Homo sapiens: one gene and its partner. The protein of the gene in region 1 purifies or fractionates together with the protein of each later gene. This does not show direct contact. Each region holds a gene or a part of one and is shown on either strand. Other genes may lie near its edges.

Region 1 (3,811 bases):
TAGTGCAATGGCATGATCTCGGTTCACCAAAACATCCGCCTCCTGGGTTCAAGCGATTCTCCTGCCTCAGCCTCCCGAGTAGCTGAGATTACAGACATGTGCCACCATGCCTGGCTAATTTTGTATTTTTAGTAGAGATGCGGTTTCTCCATCTTGGTCAGGCTGGTCTCGAACTCCTGACCTCAGGTTATCCGCCCACCTTGGCCTCCTAAAGTGCTGCGATTACAGGCATGAGCCACTGTGTCCGGCCAAGATGGGGTCTGATTATGTTGCCCAGGCTGGTCTTGAACTCCTGGGCTCAAGTGATCTTCCTGCCATAGCCTCCCGAAGTGCTGGGATTACAAGCATGAACCACTATGCCCAACCTGTATTTTTGTTTTTTGTTTTTGAGGTACTATATATGTAACACAAAATTCACCCACTTTAAGTGAACAATTCAGTGGCATTTAGTACATTCACAGAATTGTGCAACCATCACTGCTGTCCAGTTCCAAAACATCTTTGTCCCCGCAAAAGGTGACCCCATCTTCATTAGCACTAACCCCCTATTCTCCATTGCCCAGCCCCTGACAATCACCAATCTGCAGTCTGTCTCTATCCGTTTTCAAGTTTTATAGGTAGAATCATGCACTATGTGGCCTTTTGAGTCTGGCTTCTTTCACTCAGCATGATGCTTTGGGGGTCATGCATGTTGTAGCCTAAATCAGCACTTCATTCCTTTTTATGGCTGAGTAATATTCCACTGTGTGGATGCACCACATCATCCATTCATCTGTTGATGGACACTTAGATTGGTTCCACCTTTTGGCTATTATGAATCATGCTGCTATGAACATGAGTGTACACATTTTTGTCTAAACACTCATGTTCAGTCCTTTGGGGTACACATCTAGGAGCAGAATTGCTGGGGCGCATGCTTGTTGTATATTCTTGATCATGCTGGTCACCACCTAACGTTATTTGTTGTGTTTCTCTGGTGCCTTGAGGTTGGAAAGCCTGTCTCTCTTGTGCCCTCTTGTGTGCCTGGAACATGAATGACACAGAAGGAGGAAGTGTCCCAGAGACGTGGCTGAGAGGGAGGAAGGGAGGGATGGGGGTGTGCAAAAGCTTATTGCTCTCTGAGGCTTGCAGTCTGGCAGGTAGGAATTCCCTTCTATGGGATCAGGTCGATCTTTTGCCTTTCCAGTGAGGCTTGTGGGGCTGCTGGGGGGCAGTGGGGGCTGGCCTTAGTCTCTAGCTGCCTTTCTAGCCTGCCAGGCAACGCCCGCATCTGCCTTTTTGTCCCACGAAGGTTTTGTCTTTTGGCCAGGGGCGGGGGCAGTTCCTGTCTTCCCCCTGGCCCTTCCAGCGGTACCACAACTCAAGAAACTGTCCCCAGGAGGGACTGCGCTCCCCCACCCCCGACCGCCCCCAACGTTATATAACTTGTTTGTTCCAACTTCTGTCTTCTGCAACCGAGGGGGAAAAAAGAAAGAGAAAAGCTTATTCTCCTTCCTTCCTATCTCGAGGGATCAACAAAAAACCCGTTGCCTAGTAGAGGTGGTCATTAATGACTGAGCCGAACCTCAGGGATGGACAGAGTGGGGCTGCCCTGGCTGGGGTGTGCGGAGAGGAGGTGGGGTCCTTGCTGCAAGCACAAAGGACACTTGTTCACCAGCTGGCCTCCTCCCAGCTCGGGCCGCGGGGTCTAGACTCCTTGGAGGGAAAGGAGGCTTGGGCCACTTGGGGTGTCGCAAGGGGAGGCAAACCCTCTGGGGAGTCGCACCTCCCCAGCTAAAATTCTGTCACTGTGAGGTACCTGACCGGCAGAGTTTTGGAGGAACCTTCTGGCCTTGCAGCCTCTCCGACATGGGCCTTTGGCATCCACGCTTTTTGGCCCACGCTCCCTGGAGACGCCTGGGTAGGGCCCAGGCTCACTGAGTCATGCTGTTCCTGGGGGTGAGGTGGGGGGATCTGGGTGAGGGATGTGCCAGCTTCAGGCATTTGCATAAGAAGTGGTGGCTAGGCTGGGTGCTTTGGCTCACTCCTGTAATCCCAGCACTTTGGGAGCCCAAGGCAGGCAGATTACAAGGTCCAGAGTTTGAGACCAGCCTGGCCAACATAGTGAAACCCCCTCTCTACTAAAAATACAAAAATTAGTCAGGTGTGGTGGTGGGCGTCTTTAATCCCAGCAACTCTGGAGGTTGAGGCAGGAGAATCGCTTGAACCTGGGAGGAGGAGGTTGCAATGAGCCGAGATCCTGCCACTGCACTCCAGCCTGAGCGACAGAGTGAGACTCTGTATCAAAAAAAAAAAAAAAAGAAGTGATGGCTGGGACGTTGTGCCCAGGGGCTTTGCTGCCTGCTGAAAGTGTTTGCATGGAAAGTTGTGGCCGAGACGCTGCGCCCGGTGGGTTTGTCACAGTCAGTCTGGCTGGGTGGCCTTTGCCTGTTGAAGCTTTCTCCACAATCTAGATCATCTCCACCAAGCCCAGAGGCCTTGGAAGGGTCCAGCCCCCCAGCTCCTGCTAGGAAGACTTAGGGGAAGAGGTGGCTTCCCAAGGAGGTTCTTGCTACTTTGGGGAAGTTCTCATTCCTTTGGCCTCTTGCCCCTTTCTTTTTTATTATTATTAATTTTTTTTGACGTCACTCTGAGCTCAGGCTGGAGTGCAGTGGCATGATTTTGGCTCACTGCAACCTCCGCCTTCTGGGTTCAAGTGATTCTCCTGCCTCAGCCTCCCAAGTAGCTGGGACTACAGGCGCCCACTACCATGCCTGGCTAGTTTTTGTATTTTTAGGAGAGATGGGGTTTCATCATGTTGGCCAGGCTGGTCTCGAACTCCTGACCTCAGGTGATCCACCTGCCTTGGCCTCCCAAAGTGCTGGGATTACAGGCATGAGCCAGTGCGCCCGGCCTCATGCCCCTTTCAGAAGGAGGATTTTGACCCTTCCAAGACGTGGACTCAAGTCCTTCTCCTGGAAAATGTGGTCAGATATGGCGGCATGAGGTGTCTCATCATACCCATGGGTGACTGTGGCTCCCTCTTTATGGGTTGTGGCTGTGACAGATTCCTCATCTGGGAAATGGGGCTCCAGGCCCACCAGGTGGGGGGTGTCTGGGAGGAAACGAGTGGGGAGAGGTCACATGTACCTCATCAGTGTTACTGTGGCAGTGCTGACGCCCATGATGGGGACACTGCCATCCTTCTGCCCGCCATGCCCGCATGGGCCTTGAGGGGATCGTCAATGCCAGCAAGCCTTGATGTGGCGTGCGTGTGTCAGGCAGGGAAAGGAGAGGGTGAACTTGAGCCATTGGGAAGACAGTAGTGCCATGACTTGGGCCGTAAGAGGGACAGCAGCAGGGGCAGCGAGAGAGTAGAGCACGTCCAGCGTGAGCTGGAGAGGGCAGGTTCCGCCAGGAGTAGGCCTGGGAGCAGGAGCTCGGCAGGGCGGGGGCAGGGGCGGCGGGGGGTGGCGCGTCTCAGCAGGGATGGGGGCAGGTGGAACTGGGCCAGCCCAAGAAGGGCACTGGCCCACAGGCCGAGCCACATCCAGGCCACTCGATCTGCCCCTCACAGCTGAGCCCCTTCTCTGGGAAGGAGGCCACCCTCTCCTCCCCTCCTTGTCGGCAGGTCCCAAGAGCTCTGGGAGTGGAATTGCTCTGAAAGCACTCACTTCAACCTGAATCGTGCAGTGCGATCGTCACAGCTGGACTGTTTCCACCTGGTAGCTGTGACCCCCGGGACGGCCTCCTTGTCGTTGTCCGTAGTTACCGGGGAAGAAAGGCTTTATTACCCTCCGCCATAATCGCACCATCTCCAGGGAGCCCCTGC
Region 2 (3,811 bases), on another chromosome or scaffold:
GGATCACCTGAGGCCAGGAGTTCCAGACCATCCTGGCCAACATGGCAAAACCCTGTCTCTATTAAAAAAAAAAAAGAAAAGAAAAAATAAATAAGAAATGCAAAAGCGAGGCGAGACGCAGTGGCTCACGCCTATAATCCCAACACTTTGGAAGGCTGAGGCAGGTGGATCACCTGAAGTCAGGCGTTCAAGAGCAGCCTGACCAACATGGCAAAACCTTGTCTCTACTAAAAATATAAAAATAAGCAGGGCGTGGTGGCGCATGCCTGTAATCCCAGCTACTTGGGAGGCTGAAGCAGGAGAATTGCTTGAACCTGGGAGGTCGAGGTTACAGTGAGCCGAGATTGCACCACTGCCCTCCAGCCTGGGCAACAAGAGTGAAACTCCATCTCAAAAACAAAGAAAGAAAGAAAGAAAGAAATGCAAAGGTGAATGAGACCCAGGTCGGAAATTTAACACCCAACAGAGGAAGCCTGACTGTTGTCAGGCATGAATTTGTGCTAGGAGCTATTAGATGCTAACACTAACTGGGGTTGATGTCCCTCTGAGACCCTGGTTCTGCCATCCTTAGAGCCAGTCCAGTGGCTGATCCTAGAGTCTGTGATTCAGCCCATGCTTTCCTCTGGTGTTTTGCAGATCCCCCTCCATCAGCTCCCCAGTGCTGGGCACAGATGGCATCAGGATCGTTCATGTTGCAGCTTACCTGTCGCTGGGATGGGGGATACCCTGACCCTGACTTCCTGTGGATAGAAGAGCCAGGAGGTGTAATCGTGGGGAAGTCAAAGCTGGGGGTGGAAATGCTGAGCGAGTCCCAGCTGTCGGATGGCAAGAAGTTCAAGTGTGTTACAAGCCACATAGTTGGGCCAGAGTCGGGCGCCAGCTGCATGGTGCAGATCAGTGAGTCTGTTTTGCTTTGTCTTGGGGTTGGAGTTTCCCTGCCTTCCTTTCTCCTAGGAGAAGCATTTGAGAGTTCTTCTGAGGAAGAAATCCCCGGATGTCAGGGTGGACTGAATTCCTTCCCTTTCTCCCTTTCTTTTTCTTTATGTTTCACTTTTTTCAAATTTTAGAGATGCTTAGCTCAAGCTTCTTCATTCTAGTCCCAGCTATTTTCCACTTGACAGATACTAATTGAACCCCTGCTATGTGCCAGGTACAGTTTCTACGTGCTGAGGATGGAGCAGTGAACAAGACATATGAGGTTCATCGTCTTTTGTGTCTGTCCATTTACTGTTGCTGTAAAGGAATACCTGAGGCTGGGTAGTTTATAAAGAAAATTTTTTTTTTTTTTTTTTTTTTTTTTTTTTTAGGCAGAGTCTTGCTCTGTTGCCCAGACTGGAGTGCAGTGGCATGATCTTGGCTCACTACAGCCTCTGCCTCCCAGGTTCAAGCAATTCTCCTGCCTTAGCCTCTTGAGTAGCTGGGACTACAGGCGTGCACCATCATGCCCAGCTAATTTTTGTATTTTTAGTAGAAATGGGGTTTCACCATGTTGGCCAGGCTGGTCTCGAACTGACCCCAAGTGATCTACCTGCCTCGGCCTCCTAAAGTGCTGGGATTATAGGTGTGAGCCACCGCACCTAGCTGAAAATTACTTTATTTGCTCATAGTTCCGTAGGCTGTGCAAGAAACATGGCACCAGCATCTGCTTGGCTTCTGGTGAGAGCGTCAGGCTGCTTCTGCTCATGACAGAAGGTAAAGGGGAGCCAGCTTATGCAGAGTTCCATAGTGAGAGAGGAAGCAAGAGAGAGAAGGGAGGTGCCAAACTCTTTTTAACAACCAGCAGTGGCTGGGCGTGGTAGCTCACACCTGTAATCTCAGCACTTTGGGAGGCTGAGGCAGGTGGATCACTTGAGGTCAGGAGTCTGAGACCAGCCTGGCCAACATGATGAAACCCCATCTCTACTAAAAATACAAAAATTAGTTGGGCGTGGTGGCGCATGCCTGTAGTCCCAGCTACTCGGGAGGCTGAGGCAGGAGAACTGCGTGAACCCAGGAGGCGGAGCTTCCAGTGAGCCGAGATCGCACCACTGCACTCCAGCCTGGGCGATGGAGTGAGACTCCATCTCAAAAAAAGAAAATAGTGACAAAAATTGTAATTACTTTTGCAGTAAGCTAATAGAATGAGAATTCACTTACCCAAACACCTTCCATTAGGCCTTACCTCCAACACTGAGGATCAAATTTAAACATGAGATTTGGAGGGGACAAACATTCAAACTATAGCTTCTAGTTATGTAACAAATTACTCTCAAACATAGTGGCTTAAAACAAGAATAACCATTTATTATCTGATGATTTCTGTGGGTCAGGAATTCAGAGAGGGCACAGTGGGCATTGGGGATGGTTTGTCTTGGCTCTGTATGTCTGGGGTGTCAGCCGGAAGAATTGAAGGTTGCGGGGCTGAAATCATCTGAAAGATCTACTTTTGAAGTCCTCACTCCCATGCCTGGCAACTATTTCTTCTCCATGTGGGATTCTCCATAAGGCTGCTTGAGTGTCCTTCCAACATGGCAGATGGCTTCCCTCAGAGCAAATGATCCAAAATGGAGTGAGTCAAGCTGATGCTATCCTTTCTATGACCTAGCCTCAGGAGTTACATGGGATCCCTTCTGCCACACTCTGTGTCTTAGAAATAAGTCCAGCCCACATTGAAGAGGGCTGGGAAGAATTAGGCACCACTTTTTGAAGGGAGGAGTGTCAGAGAATGTCTGTACATATTAAAACCACAAACATTCCTCTTTCACAGAGCTTATATTCTGGGTGGCATGGGGGTAGAAGGAAGACAGAAAGTACAAAAACAAGTAAGATAGGTCCAGATATGATGATAATATGAGGATAATAAAATGGTATATATAAAAGGGAGGCCTTTATAAGAAGAGGGGCACTTTTCCTAGGGTGGCAGGGAGGTCTCCGTGAGATGGTAATAATCTATCCTTAGAATGAGAAGGAGCTGGCTAGGTGAAGATCCGTGGGCTGAGTGTTCCTGGCAGAGGCAACAGCAAACGCAGAGGCCCTGAGGTGGAAACAAACTTGGCATTTGAGGACCCGAGAGAAGACCAGTGTGGCCGGGGCATCGTGTGTAAAGTACTGATAAAGCTGGGTGGAGGTTGGGGGTTCAGTTGTGTCCCCCCAGTAGATATGTTCAAGTCCAAACCCTAATACCTGTGGATATGACTTTATTCAGAAAGAGTCTTTGCAGATGGAATCAAGTTAAGATAAGGTCATAGTGGATTAGAGTAGGCTGTAATCCAATGACTGATGTCTTTCTTTGTAAGAAGGGAGAAGGCCGGGCGTGGTGGCTCACGCCTGTAATCCCAGCACTTTGGGAGTCAGAGGCAGGAGGATAGCTTACGGCTAGGAATTCGAGACCAGCCTGGGCAACACAGACCTTGTTTCTACAAACAATAAAAAATAAATAAAGTAGCTGGGCATGGTGGTATGCACCTATAATCCCAGCTACTGGGGAGGCTGATGTGAGAGTATTGCTTGTACCTAGGAGGTTGAGGCTGCAGTGAGCGGTCACTCCAGGCCTGGGTGTCAGAGTGAAACTCTGTCTCAAAACAAAAAAAAGGGAAAGGTAAGAGAGATCAGAAGCGCCAGGATCAGTCAGATGTGGTAGCTCATGACTGTAATCCCAGCACTTTGGGAGGCCAAGGACGGGCATATTGCTTGGGCCCAGGAGTTTGAGACCAGCCTGGGCAACACAGCGAAACACCATGATATGGTTTGGCTCTGTGTCCCCACCCAAATCTCATGTTGAATTGTAACTCCAAATATTGGCAGAGGGACCTGGTGGGAGGTAATTTGATCA

Evidence for each region.
Region 2: the proteins of KLHL26 (region 1) and VSIG10 fractionate together in Homo sapiens (co-fractionation; one large-scale study listed by BioGRID). This does not show direct contact.

The regions. Positions count from the first base shown.
Region 1 is NC_000019.10:18,643,528-18,647,338, forward strand, and holds part of KLHL26 (kelch-like protein 26), read left to right. Parts: intron 1-1,110; exon of another isoform or gene 1,111-1,139; intron 1,140-3,811. UniProt on the Homo sapiens protein: May play a role in endo(sarco)plasmic reticulum (ER/SR) mitochondrial signaling. May be part of the ubiquitin-proteasome system (UPS) and affect ubiquitination and degradation of target substrates in cardiomyocytes.
Region 2 is NC_000012.12:118,076,432-118,080,242, reverse strand, and holds part of VSIG10 (V-set and immunoglobulin domain-containing protein 10 precursor), read left to right. Parts: intron 1-636; coding exon 637-897; intron 898-2,262; exon of another isoform or gene 2,263-3,811.